4 linked regions of the Homo sapiens genome follow. The protein of the gene in region 3 interacts with the protein of the main gene of each other region in a pairwise test. Each region holds a gene or a part of one and is shown on either strand. Other genes may lie near its edges. The genes, in order: FMR1, FSD2, ZNF777 and CCDC136.

Region 1 (3,569 bases), on a different chromosome or scaffold from region 3:
AGCAGCAACCAAAGGTATTATATACCTTCTGTATTCACTTAAAATGACTGATTTTGAAAAAGTCATGCAAACATCCATTTACAGATAAGCCTCATTAACTCAAAGGCAGTGGCCCTGTTGGGCTCTGATGATTACTCAAACCATTTCTGACACTCTGACACTACATCCGGAAATCATCCGGAAATGCATTCAGAGCCTGCAAAAGCTTTTTTTTTTTTTTTTTTTTTTTTTGAATAGCTACAGCACTTGCAGATCTTCCTCCTTTGAGAGAATATTTGATTTTAGGAAATAAGCAAATGTAGATAAGTATGATTCAACTGGGCAATAACTTTTAGGCAAAGAGAAAAAAACAAAATATAGCAATGTAGTAATAAGGCTGATATTATAGTGCTTTTATGATGAGTCTGAAAACAGTCTCCAACATTTGTAAATGTTTTAAATCGGGTCTGTCTACTACAGTAGCCCTTAAGCCATATGTAGCTATTGAGCACTTGACATGTTGCAAGAGTGAATTGGAGACTGATTTTAATTTTATTTAATTTTAATGTAAGTAGTCGCACATGACCCGTGGCTACTATGGTAGATGGCATAGTTTTAGACAAGGGCAGTAGTCTTGGGTAGATACTTGATTTACTTAGAACATTTCTTTACCTAGCTGTAACAAGGTTCTAATAGCTGATTAAAGGACAACATTTTTAGCATGTAATATACAGTAAGGAACTAATGTTAATTACTGCCAAGATGTATAAACATTATGAAACCTTAAACAAGGATGAACACAGAAGCAGTGGCCCTTCTTTGTAAATAAGGGGTCAGTTACTTCCTAATAGGTGTCTTAGTTTTAGTTAATAATCTAATAGCACCCCCAAAAAGCAAACTGTTAATTTGTTATTAGCCATCCTGTAAAGACAAGGGAGAAATCGGGGCCAGGAGAGTCCTCTTTCCCATTCTCCATAATTTTTACGACCTATAGAAATAAGAGCCTAAGAGTGACCAGTTCCTGCAACCTAACTCAAAATTAGGCCTCTCTGTTGAAGTAATAGTGAGGCAAACAATCCCTTGAAGCACTGGGGCATGCACCCTTATGAAATCTAATAATTCTAAAATATCATTGGCAGTATTAAGCTAGAGTTCTCAAAATATGCTGTAGAAAATATTGGTCATTTAAATATAGCTGAGTAAAAATAAGCAAGATCAAAATGATAAGAAAATGTTGATTTCTCCCCTTTTGAACCAGTAACTAACTATAAGGGTATATACCCATGCTTAACTTAAAAATAATTATTTAGCCACCTTGGGTATAGCACAACATATGGATGCCATTATAGTCCACCTTGATCTTACAAGGAAGCTTTCTTTTAGCGTAGCTTTACTTTTATTTAAGCATTATTGAAGAAGCTTGGTATCTCTGTTTAAGTTGCTTCTGTATCAGTGTTTTCCAGGGCCCTGTCTCAGCTTCCATAGTTTTTCTTAAGAGCAGCTAATTAATGCTTCACTCCATATGCTTTAATTTGATATTTTGGGAAGTTTCATTTTTTAAAATAATCTTTTTATATCATAGGCCTTTGAAGACATATTTGTTTACAAAGACATCTGCATTGAACCATTTGTTTTTAAAAACATGTATCGGGCATGTTCTATATACCAGAAACTATGCCATTTACTGAGGACACCGAAGTTAGAGAATGGTCTTAATCCGAACTAGTTATTGTCTCACTATCCAATATGGATATCAAACATTCAGCGTCATGAGGATTTACTACTGTGTTTTCTCCCAAGAGTTTTATAATTTTAGCTCTTATATTTAGGTCTTTGATGCATATTCATTGATTTTTTTTTGTATGCAGTATGAGGTAAAGGTTGAAACGTATTCTTTTTGCATGTGGGTGTCCACTTGTCCCAGCTTCATTTTTTGAAAACACTATACTTTCCCCATTGAATTGTCTTGGCTTCTTTGTTGACAAAGGATTTATTATTTCTGCCACAACCCAGCTGTTTCTCACTGTCTAAACCTTTATGCCTGCTGCCCCGTAGGCTTAGTGGAATGCCTCTCCATCCTCCACTCTCTTTTGTTTAGCTAGTACTTCCTTATCCTTTAAGGGGTCAGTAGGAACCTCACCTTCTTCAGTATGTTTTCCTTTGTCTTATCAACCTACCACCATCACCCACACACATACCTTTTCCCTAAGGCTGGGATAGGAACCTCTTAGGCAATGATCTATTTGATAAGTACTCACTGAGTTCATACTAGACACTCTGCAGTATATCCGTAAATGAAGTAAAACCTGACACCACCCTCAGAAAACTTACTGTTAGTGAGAAAATGGGCTATAATAATAGAGTGGGGTAAGTTTATTGTAGGGATAAGCATAGGATGCTATGAGAATGCAGAGGACAGGAATTTAACCTAGACTTCTCAGTTCTCCCGTTGAAGTTGACATCTGAACTGAAATCTGGAAGACCAGTAAGAGATAGCTATGTAAAAAGAGGGGAAGGACAATAGGAAAGAAGGAATGGAGAGAGGCCCAGAAACTACAGAGTATGGCACAAGTAGTTTAGCATTGTTGGGTCACAAATTCTAAGGATATGAAAGATAAAGTTGAAGAAGTGGTGGGGCTGGGGAGGACAGCTCCTGTAGAGCCTTTTACAGCGGGAGAAGGAGTTTGGCTATGGTCCTGCAGGCAGGGAGAAACCACTGAAGGGGAGAAACATACAGAATAAATTTGAGTAAGAAGCTTAAATCTCCCCAAGCCCTTTTAAAATAAATTAAGATATAAAGCCTTTGGGTTTCTTTATGCTTTGTCCTATTCTTCTAATTGTCCAAAACAAAACAAAAACCTTCCTTTTCTGTACCTATTAAAAGGTTAATTTTATAAAGTTACAGACAGCATGCTGATTAAAGAATTCTTGATAATTAGCTATTTTGTCTGTCTTTGTGTAGATTACTAACAATTGTGTCATCAGATTTAAAAGATCTAAACCTCTGGACTTTATATATTTTTTCTACAAGTACTGTGAGATTGAGAACTTAATTCAACTCTAGTAACTGGACTTTTTAGTGTTGTTTGCAGCATATGATTGTTAAAGAAAGTTTAGTATATTTGTGTGTGCGTATATATATATATATAGATAGATAGATAGATTTGAGGTTATATTTAATCATTGACTATTGGTATTCTAAGATTTTAAGGAGAGAAAGGTAGGTTACAATATATGGCTGATATATGGTTCTGGAACAATTTTCTTAGTTTTCAGTAATTCTACCTAAAATGTACGTCCAGCTTTGCACTCACTACCACATTGTAATTTCCAGTATACTTGTCTATTTTTCGAGATGTTGAAATCTGTGGAGAATTTTTTCTCATGTTTAGTGTTTTAGCTATGTTTATCTCTAGGGTATAGCACATACAAGGTGGCAATATAGATGTGCTTAATGAATAAAATGATCTTCAAAAACTGACCTTCATTTGAAGTTCTATTTTATTCATAAACACATAAAACGTTTGGTATCACTGTAAAATTTAACTAAAAACAAAAACTATCTTTAAGCTCACAAGTTAATTTAACGT
Region 2 (4,338 bases), on a different chromosome or scaffold from region 3:
GAGCTCTCTGGGACCCCCAATGTAATGGCACTAATTTTATTCATGAGGGCTTGCCTTCATGACCTAATCACCTCCCAAAGGCCACATTTCCAAATACCATCACATTGGGGATTTGGTTTCAACATGGGAATTTTAGGGGAATATAAACTGTCTATAGCATATGTATATATATGTATGATGGTTAATTTTAATGTGTCAACTTGATTGGGTCACCAGGTGTTTAGTCAGACATTATTCTGGGTGTGTGTGTGTGATGGTGTTTCTGGATGAGATTAACCTTTGAGTTAGTAGACTGAGTAAAACTGGTTGCCCTCCCTCATGTGAGTGGGCCTCATCCAATCGATTGAAGGTCTGAATAGAACAAAAGCTTGAATAAGAGGGAATTCTTCCTGCCTAACTGCCTTCAAGTGGGAATATGGGTTTTTTTCCTGCCTTCCAACTCAAATGGAAACATTGGCTCTCCAGGGTCTTGAGCCTGCTGGCCTTTGGACTAGAACCACACCATTGGCTCTCCTGGATCTTCCGCTTACTAACTGCAGATCTTGGGACTTTTTGGTCTTCATAATTACATGAGTCAATTCCTTATGATAAATCTGTTTCCATATATGTATACATTCTATTGGTTCTGTTTCTCTGGACAACTCTGACTATTACACTGTGTGTGTGTGTGTGTGTGTGTGCGTGCGTGCATGTGAGAGAGAGAGAGGAGAGAGAGATTATACTGTTATGCTGGTCTGTGGGCTCAGCATCAAAGTAGGAATTTTGCAACACACCCACAGTTAACACTCACTTTTTTCCTCAACACCTAGACTCTTTCAACTTCTTAACAGAGTCAGAATTTTGGAAGAAAAGAACATTAACACTAAATTGTCATTTTATAAATTATTAAACTAAAGCTTAGAGAAATAGTCAATCATAGTCCATAAGGAATGTATTGGCTGGATAGTCCCATTTCTATGCCATACCATGGCAAGTAAAAAAAAAAAATAATAATGTTTGCTTAAGGCTTATATGGGAAGTGTGTCCTGTGCTTTGATTAGAAAAGTGCCCCCAAAATGTTTTTTAACCTTGTATGGTTCATGAGCACCTCTGAGAATCTATTGAAACCTGTGAGTTCTCTTCCCGGAAGTGATTCTATAAGGACACAGACATAATTTTGCATATAATTTTAGAAACTCATTCACTTAAAAAAAAAAAAAAGGAATCTTCTTCCTGGTCTTGCCGTGACAGTCCCCAGCCCTCTCCACATGACCAGCCATCTGAGACCCATGGTAGAGCCACAAGTCTAAAACCCCTCACAGCACAGAAAGTAACTCAGAGCACGGCATGTGACCTCTCCTGGTGACACTTGAGTAGTAAGAAGTGGCAACTCAGCCACAGCAGGTCTATATTTGGACCTTCACTCATGGCAGGCCTGTTGCTATTTGTGGCTGCAGCCAGCTCATGTTACCATCCAGCTTTGGTGCCCCACTTGCAGAACTCTGGTGTAAAATAGGCAGGGGTAGCCTGTGGGGCATGCAGAGGTCACTAGGAAGGAAAGCCTGCTGAACACAGATTCAATTTTCTAGCAGAACTCCAGGTCCTCTGAGTTAAAGGAAGCATTTATGGACGCTTAGCAGGCAAGTTTTGGGGTAGTCATATTCTTCCAATGCAAATTGTATTATTAGAAACTCAATGCTGCAATATTAATGCAATATCTTTCCTGTAGGTGGGAAGAGATATCATGGTAAATTGCAGATGTTTAAATTACAATAAATAGTGTAAATGTTTTCTGTGCCTTCTTAAAGCAAGAATTCGCATTAACTGAACATGATGTTGGGACAGGATGTGAGAGGCTCTGATGAAGGCAGACAGGGGCTGGTGATTCTTATAATGTGTCTTTAGGATATCTGTAGTGCTGGGACCCATTAGTTAGAACCATTTGGTAGAACAGTTTGGAAATATAGATGTTGAATATCATCTGGCTATACTATTGTGTTGTAAATACATTTTATTTAATCTGTGTGTACATGCTGAAAAATAATAACTTCATGCATTGATTCAAATACTAAAAAACAGCATCGTAATTATTTTTCACTTGTTATGCATACAGCCTCCTCCTATAGAAAGTTTTCAGGTTCGGGCAGTGTCTGCAAAGCTGATTTGAATCATTTCATATCACTGTAACACTTTAAGGCAAGCTTTCTTTCACTGCTGTGGCTCAGGAATTGCCAAGGGCTGCATGGAAGAGCTAAAATTATAGGCAAAGTTATGTTCCTGCCCTTATGGAATCACTTCTGGGAAGAGAATTCACAGGTTTCAGTAGATTCAGTAGATATGCCCATGATCCATAAAAGGTTAATAAACAAGCCAAGTGAGGTGGCAGATTGCATGAGCCCAGGAGTTCAAGACCAGTCTGGGCAACATAGCAAGAACCTGTCTCTAAAAAAAAAAAAAAAAAAAAATTATTGGGGGACTTTTCTAAGTAATGCACAGGGATACACCTCCCATATAAGCCTTAGACAAACATCTTTTTTATTTTTTTTAACTGCTTCCCTTGGCATAGAGGAAAGGGTATCCAGCAAAGACATTCATAATGGACTATGACTAATTGCTTTACTTCTCTAAGCTTTAGTTTCACCATTTATAAAATGACAGTTTATTGTCAACTTTCCTTTCTCCCCAAATCCTGATTTTGTTAAGAAAGAGTCTAGGTGTTGAGGGGAAAAGTGACTGTTAACTGTAGGGTGTGTTGCAAAATTCCTACTTTGACACTGAGCCAGTTTGTGTTGAGACCACTTTGTGTTGTGTGTTCGAAGGGCAAGTGCCAGCTTGAAAGCATGTGTTCTTATCTGTATTTGCACTAAGTGTTTTCCAGTCTTCTGACAGTTCAACTTGGTGTTTCACATTCCAGCTTCTGGTTGAAATAATTTCTCATGATGATTTATTGGTCATACAGAATCCTGGCTATTTCCCTTTGGGTAGCACATGGGAATGTAAGCATTATTTTAGTGAACTGCTCCTCTGTCTGTAGATGGTGTGATTTAATGGAAACCTGGGTTTGAATCCAAGCTCTTCACCTGACTGGTTGTGTGTCAGGTGAAAAGCTTGGATTCAAGCACAGGGCTAAATACAGAGTAGCCCAGATACATTTTTGTAAAAGAAAATTGGCTATAAGCAAGTCCTTTATCCTCACAAGATCTCAGTTTTGCCATCCTAAAATCAGGAATTTTTTTTAAACATCCATGACCTGCTGAATAAAATCAGGAAATTGAATTAGATGCTCTCCAAGGGACCTCCATCCCTAGAATACCATATCTCTGCCTGGGCCCCCTGGGAGAGGAATGATCTCATAGCTGATGTCTGTGCGTGGTTATGAGGCTGTTCTGCTTGGTGCCTTCTTTCATCATCGGCTGTTTTCAAGGGACAAATATTCCCACAGTAGCCATGGATGATTCCACACTGCTGTGGTCACTCTCCATGAGTGACTAGGTAGAAGGCTTCTAGCCCAGGTGGGAGATACTAAGGTAGGAATCATGATAATGATAGTAAGAACAACAACAATAACAGCAGCTAACACTTACTGAGGACTTACTTTAAGCTATGTACTATGCATAAAGTACATTATGTTATTTCATCTAAATGCCAACCTTATGAGGTAGACACTGTTAATAGAGCTGTTTTATAGTCCATTAAAGTTAGGCCTAGAGAGATGATTTTCCTGAAGTCATACTTCCAGGATGTGGCAGAAACAATGCAAACACAGGACTCTCTGAATCCAGAGGGCAGTGATCTTGGGGAGCAGGGAGAGGGGACAGGAAAAGGGATATTACTTAGAGATTCAAGAGGTAGAGTCAGAATCAGCATGAATTAGTTATTAATTAGATTGGGGGTGTCAAGGATGAGCTTCTGGTCTCTGGTTTGGTGCTGGAGGGGGTGGATGTCATGCTCTCATTCATGGATAGTAGCAATGCAGTGGACTTCATGGAGGGCCATGTTGGATGAGTATGGGGTTTAAGAAGCAGTGGTGAGATAGGGAAGAGTGGGAGCTCTCAGCAGGCAGGACAGTCTGAGCCAGGGCCTAGGGTGAGTCTCACATGGAAGACCCTGAGCGCGGCCAGAAGGAACAGAGGGTTACCGCTAGGGAAGGTGGGGCTGCTTGGGGAGTATAGAGCTATGGCATGGGGTGGGGGATCCCTGGTGCCCAGGAGAGTTGGGACTTGCCAGTAATGGAGCCCTCAGAATGCACGATGTGCAGATGTACCACTTCTGCCTGAACAAAGCAACATATGCTGTATAAGCTATGCTGCTATCCTGGGCAGGGACACCCCTGAGGAAGGACCATGGTGCGCGCAGTCA
Region 3 (3,569 bases):
AAAACAGACTCTGTTCTCTAGCCCGGTATGTCTCAAATGTTACTGTGCACATGGATCTCCCCGGGATCTTACTGAATGCAGAAGCTATTTAGTAGGTCTAAGGTGGGGTCTGAGCAAGTTACCTGGTAGCACCATTGCTGCTGGTCCACAGACCATGCTTTAGAGCTGCAAGAATTATATCCTGAAGGGGAGGAAAAGGATCCGACAAGACAGGCCCCTCACTCTTTGGGGCCAGGACAGTGGCCAGACTTCTAGAAAAGTCCTAGGTGAAGGCCCAGAGCCAGGAGTTTGGGCCTTGGGATTGGCCAGCCGTGGGCCTGTCACTGCCTTCCAGCGGGTCTGAGCCGAGTTATTGTGTGGTTTCAGGTCCCTGTCACATTTGATGATGTTGCTGTGCACTTCTCGGAGCAGGAGTGGGGAAACCTGTCTGAGTGGCAGAAGGAGCTCTACAAGAACGTGATGAGGGGCAACTACGAGTCCCTGGTTTCCATGGGTAAGGAGAAGCCTTCGCTCGCTGGGGGCTGCCTGGACGCCAGCTCAAAGTGCATTCATAAACTTAGGGAGTTCTGAACCCCAGCAGAGCCAATAGTTGCAAGCAAGGAGAACAGAGTTGTAGAGATCACAACAAATTAAAGCAAACGCCCTCATATACCCACACACATCAGTGCGGCCCAGGCCAGAATGGCTTGTAAATTGAGACCCCACTCTCAGAGAAGCTGCTGGGGCAAGGAGGAGGAGAAAGACCTAGACATCAGTGGTCTCTCCGTCATCATATTTTTCCCCATGGGGACCCCTTTTTAAATAAATTAGTTTGTCCAGCAAACTATTATTAAGGAAGGAAAAAAGAATGAAAGGAAAGTGTGCTGAGTGTCTCCTGTGTACCAGCCACATTTGAGGTGCTGTACAAGTATCATCTCCTTGGACCTGCACAGCCAAGATGTTGCGGAGGCTAAGACAGGTGTTCACACTCCTGTTCGATGATTCAGGTGCCTGAACACTGAGGCTGTGATCAGGGAGGTTAAATGCTTATTTCATGGAGATCTGCCTTACCCCGAAGTCTGTAGATTCTTGTGATTTTAATTAAGAATATTTAACGATGAAAACCTGGAAAAATATACTTTACTTACATATATATATGTGTGTGTGTATATATATCTGTTTCTCTGATATGGAGAACTTTTTGGGTATATACAAAAAAACGTTATCTTAAACATTTAAATGTGTTGTCACATAGAAACTTTGATTCCAGCTAGAATTGATAATTTTATACATACCTTTCCATAGGATACATTCCCTTCCTTTTAAAATTCTTTTTTCTTTTTTTAATTGTGTTTTTTAATTGTGAAAATTCAACAATTTAAATGATTTATATAATTAAGAGCAACCACCACCCATTCACCAGTACCACTCCCCAGAGGTAACCACCATGAACACTTTGGCCTGTGTTCTCTCTCATCTTTTTTTGCATGTGCAGATATAAGCATGATACATGCACTGAGGCACATGCAGTTTGGGGTTTGCACAGAGGGGCCCGTTTACTTATTTTACCTAATGTAGGGGGATAGAGAGTGTTCCATGTCAGCACACGTAGGACTCCTTGGAAAGACAGTGCAGTGTTCCACGTGAACCATTAGGGCTTTTGACCTGTCTGCTGTTGCTGAAGAGTAGGTTGACTGTTACAAAGTGTTATGATAAACATTTCTGTGTATTTGTGCACTTCTGTGTGTTACAGTAGGACAGATACTAAGAAGTGGGATTGCCAAGTAAACAGGATGCACATTTATAGTTTTATGGCTACTGCCTGGTGCCCTCCAGAAGGCTGAGCCAGTTGATATTTCTGCAAGGGTGTGTGAAAATGCCACTTCATACCCTGGCCTGAGCTGATGTTCTTCTATTTTAAATATTAGCCTTTTTTATAGGTGAAAAATGATACCTTATTTATTTATTTATTTACTTTTTTTTTTTTTTTTTGAGACAGAGTCTCGCTCTGTTGCCCAGGCTGGAGTGCAGTGGCACGATCTGGGCTCACTGCAAGCTCCGCCTCCCAGGTTCATGCCATTCTCCTACCTCAGCCTCCCGAGTAGCTGGGACTACAGGCACCTTCCACTGCTCCTGGCTAATTTTTTTTTGTATTTTTAGTAGAGACAGGGTTTTACCGTGTCAGCCAGGATGGTCTTGATTTCCTGACCTTGTGATCCAGCCACCTCGGCCTCCCAAAGTGCTGGGATTACAGGCGTGAGCCACACGCCCAGCCTACTTCATTTATTTAAATATGTATTCTTTGATGATTAGTGAACTTGTGCATCTTTTTTTGTTTGTTTGTTTGTTTGTTTGTTTTTGAGACGGAGTCTCGCTCTGTTGCCCAGGCTAGAGTGCAGTGGCGCGATCTCGGCTCACTGCACGCTCCGCCTCCCGGGTTCACACTATTCTCCTGCCTCAGCCTCCCGAGTAGCTGGGACTACAGGTGCCCACCACCGTGCCCAGCTAATTTTTTGTATTTTTAGTAGAGACGGGGTTTCACCATGTTAGCCAGGATGGTCTCGATCTCCTGACCTTGTGATCCGCCCGCCTCGGCCTCCCAAAGTGCTGGGATTACAGGCGTGAGCCACTGTGCCCAGTGAACTTGTGCATCTTTTTATATATTTATTGGCCATTCATATTTCTTCTATGAATTACCTATTTATAGCTTTGCAATTTTACTAGTTATAGAAGTTCTTTATGTATAACTATGGATATTAACCCTTTGCCATATGTCAAACATGTATATATATGTATAATATTTCCTCCAAGTTTCTTCATCTTTTAACTTTATTTCCAAAGAACTGCAGACTTATTTTATGTAAGAAAATCTATCGATATTTTATGGCTTTTAGATTTTTATCAGGATTAGTTTTTTGTTTTTTTCTTTTTTTGAGACGGAGTTTCACTCTTGTTGCCCAGGCTGGAGTGCAGTGTGTGATCTTGGCTCACTGCAACCTCTGCCTCCCAGGTTCAAGTGATTCTCCTGCCTCAGCCTCCCGAGTAGCTGGGATTACAGGCATCCGCCACCACGCCTGGCTAATTTTTTGCATTTTTAGTAGAGATGGGGTTTCACCATGTTGACCAGGCTGGTCCCGAACTCCTGACCTCAGGTGATGCGTCTGCCTCAGCCTCCCAATGTGCTGGGATTACAGGTGTGAGCCACTGCACCCGGCCAGGATTAGTTTTTTACCTTACAAAATTTCAAATATCTTCTGCCTTTATCATGAAAACCTGGGCAGGTTTTGACTACCTCTGAGCAACACGATCCCTCTACCCCCCGCCACACACACACACCCACACCCCCACACCCACAGTGGGCTCTTGGGAAAAGAAGGGGAGACTTGGCGGTTTTCCATTGTGGTCTCCAGTCGAGGAGCTGCTCCTGGAATCACGTGCCCACAGATGATACCTTAACAACATCCAGTGCAACCTCATCCCAGAGCATATTTTTTTCCCTTTCTTCTGCCTAGACTATGCAATTTCCAAACCAGACCTCATGTCACAGATGGAGCGCGGGGAGCGGCCCACCATGCAGGAGCAGGAAGACT
Region 4 (3,400 bases), about 21 Mb from region 3:
AATAACCCCCTCAGACTTTCCGAGAGCAAAAAGGTAACCAGAGCCAAAGCCTAGATCAAGTGGGAAGTGGGGTCTTGGGCTCAGATAACTCCGAGTTAATGGGTGGCCCTGCCAAGGATGGATATCTCCAGGAGTGGAGGCCTCGCGCTCTAAGGCACAACCCTTCGGGGAGGTGGAGATGCAGAAGTGGGAGATGAGAGCAGTCTGTCTGCACGAAATCATGGGCTCAGCCCCGTTTGCTGTGGAACCACCTCACAATGACCACCTTTTCTGGGAACCAGCGTGGGGTCTCTGGAGTCCTTTCATTTACGTAGTAGCCTTTGTTACCTTCCTTATGTCGGGAGTGTTCCCTCATCCCTCTTTTGGCACTGCAGGAAGGACATTGACAGTGTGAAGTCTACTTCAGGCCATTTCTGTCGGTCTGGGCAAGTCACTCAGTCCAGTTTTCCTATGGTGCCCTGTTAGGTTTAACCTTTGTTGTTGCTGTTAGGGGTGTGTCAGGGGATAATCTCTTCTTTGTAGGCTCATGTTGCCCCCTGGATTCTGTATATCACAGGACATGAAGGTGGGGCCTGGAAGTGATCAAGAGTGATAGTGAAAATATTTCACATCTGTACAGTAGGAGCATAGACTAGTCCAAGGAGACCATCCCTAGCCTTAACCCTTCAGTTGCTAGATCATTGAGAGGTTGGGGTGGAGGTATCCTGGGATATATATGCCAGAATGCCAGAGGTAACTTACCAACAATATAGAAGTACTTCCATATTTTAATAACTGGTACGTCTCTGCAGGTATGTAGCAACTGAATTCTTGCCCTGGACTTAACTCAGGGCTCAGAGTCCCTACAGAGTTAGAGTATTTCCTGTGTAAGTCCTCAGCTTACATTACAGGTTCTTTCTGTTCTAAACAGAGGTAAAGAAAAAAAGCCTCTTGTGGTGGGATTATCCAGTCAACTCTGAGGATATCTGGAATTTCCAGCAATTTGGTCTTCAGCACTGGCTAAGGATCCAGTGTGCAGTGCTCTGCTTACCTTGTGCCAGGGGACCATTACCTAAGATGTGGAAAGTCGGAACCACTGCAGCCCCTCCCACTATCATGTTTCCTTGAGCTCATCATATTCCACCACGTGCTGGTTCAGAGCCTCACAGATGTCTTTACCTTCGGTGCCACATTTCTAAAGCTAGACCTGATTTTTCTACTTCAAATATATTCTATGTTTCTATATATGGAGAGATCCCTTTGCCCCGTGGGTCCTGCGTCTTTTGCAGGCAGCTCTAGGGCATGTGTATTACCACCTTGCAAAATCGGTTTCTCTCTGGAAGATTGTTGCAGTGAAAGAACTAGCCCTTCTCCATTGTCAGTTTGTTTCGGTGCATGTTGTCTTACAATGATATCATTAGATTCCTAGGGGATCTAAGGGACCAGAGCCCAAAATACTAAGAAACTTAATGGAAAGCAGGCTAGAACAAAGGGACAGGTGACCTGGTAGAAGACTGGCTCTTCCTAGAGTGACCTAGGAAAAGTCACAAGAAAGGTCTAGATGCAGATACCTCCTGCTTGACAGGATATGAGAGGTATGTGACGAGACAGAAAGAAAACTGGACTCACCGCCTGACTTGGACCTAGCTGCTGCTTAACCCATTCAATTTTGCAATTCCTGCAGACTGCCGGTGGAAAGAACCAAGGCCCAGGCAGCAGAAAAGACATGCAACTGCTCTAGCTTACCTGTTTTTTAACCTCTTGATTCCTTTCTCTTTTCCCTTTGTTTTCTCATCTTCATTATCTGTTGGATCCATGCGTTTATGTCTCACATCTCCTGGTCTCTCCTCGTGCTTCTTTCTCATTTTGGTGTGTTGCAGTCATCCCCTACCCCCAATCCCCCCATCTTCTCCTTGCCTCTTGTAGGCCTGGTGGTCATCTCGGCTTTGCTCTGGTGCTGGTGGGCTGAGACGTCGTCCTAATGCAGGTACTGGTATTGCTTCCTCTCCTTCTGAGGGATAGAGGGAGGGTGCAGGTTGCCCTGGCCTCTCCTCTTTCCCTTTTCTCCCAGCTGCTTGCTTCTTGCTTGTGCCATTTTATAATAGGTGATGCTCAGGTCTGAGTTTTAGTTCTGACTTTTCCTTGGGCTACTGCAAAGCCTCTGACATCTCTGAGCATGTCTTCGTAATGCATAGGAGGTTGGAATGCTTGCCAGAGACATGGTTTGTTTCAATCCTTGGCTGGGAAAAACTTGGATAAGCCCAGCTTGGTTGCTGCTGTCAAAGCTGCCTCACTACTTCTTTATCCCCGCTCATCCTCTGTGTGATGGCTAGCCTGACCACTTCTGATGAGCTGATATTTGCAAGGCTGGCCTGGACTCTCTTTGTCTTGGTTTAACTCCGGAGCCAAGTTCTCACTACTGTTGCTACCCAAGATGGCAAAATAAGGAATCCCTCTTCTGTTGGGAGAGAGAGGAGCTCTGAAGAGCTCTGATCCTCATGATCCTCCCAGGGGCATTGGTAGGAGGGCAACCTAAGCTGGTCCATCAAGCTTGGTGAAATGGAACCGAACCCCTACTGTATTCTGCTCTTTCTACTGAACAGTTCTCTGCTTCTGGACTTCCAGTCTCCGGAAAAGTCAGAACAGAATGCCGGGAAATTTTATTAGTTATCTATTTATCTATTTTGTGGGCCAGATTCCATGGTAATTGGCTTCCCCAGCTAGGTTTTCTGGAGAGAATGAGGTATTAGTGAAAAGTTTCTACTAGCCAGAGATGTGTGTTCTCAGGAAATCAAGACTGATATATTCTGGCCACTTTCCTGTCAGCTCCCACACATGTAATGTACACTGTCAACAGGATACCAAATTCAGGAGGCAGAATGTGGTCTTACGGCCTAAGGTAGAAGCCTGGGGTTCCACCTGCCTTCTGGAACCCATAAGGTATTCTCTCTAGTCCTGCATTGGCTCCTCTCTCATGCTTTCCCTGCCTCCCCCTCCACTCCCCTCTCTTCTCACATTCCTGTGAACGGAATGTAGCTTAATGCACAGGGTGGCAACTGGAGGATTTGTTGGTGGCACTTCTCTCCATTTCCTTTTCTGTCCTTCCTCCTGCTCCCTCCCCAGCTTTCCTGTTACTCATCTTCAAGCCTCCACTTTTCTTCTTGACTTTAGGTATTCCCTTTACTCCCTGGTCCACAACTGCTTTAGTGACGGGGCCCCTCTCTATGACTGTTTCTCCCCTGTCACCCCCCAGAAGTCTTAAGGCACTACGGGTGAAACCCAAAGAGTTCAGCCACAGCCTTCCACTACCTCAGACCCAGCCCGGCCCAATCAGAGGGAGAGGAAGAACTGCTGGTGAAGGGTTCTCCTGGTGGGGCCTGTTATCCCCAGAGCTCCAGGAGGCCCCAACATGCACCTGTGC

The links.
Region 1: the proteins of ZNF777 (region 3) and FMR1 interact in a two-hybrid assay, tested with the Homo sapiens proteins (one large-scale study listed by IntAct).
Region 2: the proteins of ZNF777 (region 3) and FSD2 interact in binary tests that used the Homo sapiens proteins (3 or more experiments, as listed by UniProt).
Region 4: the proteins of ZNF777 (region 3) and CCDC136 interact in a two-hybrid assay, tested with the Homo sapiens proteins (one large-scale study listed by BioGRID).

What each region holds. Positions count from the first base shown.
Region 1 is NC_000023.11:147,918,350-147,921,918, forward strand, and holds part of FMR1 (fragile X messenger ribonucleoprotein 1), read left to right. Parts: intron 1-3,569.
Region 2 is NC_000015.10:82,803,247-82,807,584, reverse strand, and holds the start of FSD2 (fibronectin type III and SPRY domain-containing protein 2), read left to right. Parts: upstream 1-1,515; 5' UTR 1,516-1,619; intron 1,620-4,338.
Region 3 is NC_000007.14:149,451,035-149,454,603, reverse strand, and holds part of ZNF777 (zinc finger protein 777), read left to right. Parts: intron 1-366; coding exon 367-493; intron 494-3,491; coding exon 3,492-3,569. UniProt on the Homo sapiens protein: May be involved in transcriptional repression. Inhibits cell proliferation through CDKN1A/p21 induction by down-regulation of NIBAN1/FAM129A at low cell density.
Region 4 is NC_000007.14:128,815,899-128,819,298, forward strand, and holds part of CCDC136 (coiled-coil domain-containing protein 136), read left to right. Parts: coding exon 1-33; intron 34-1,859; coding exon 1,860-1,961; 3' UTR 1,962-1,966; intron 1,967-3,232; coding exon of another isoform or gene 3,233-3,400. UniProt on the Homo sapiens protein: May play a role in acrosome formation in spermatogenesis and in fertilization.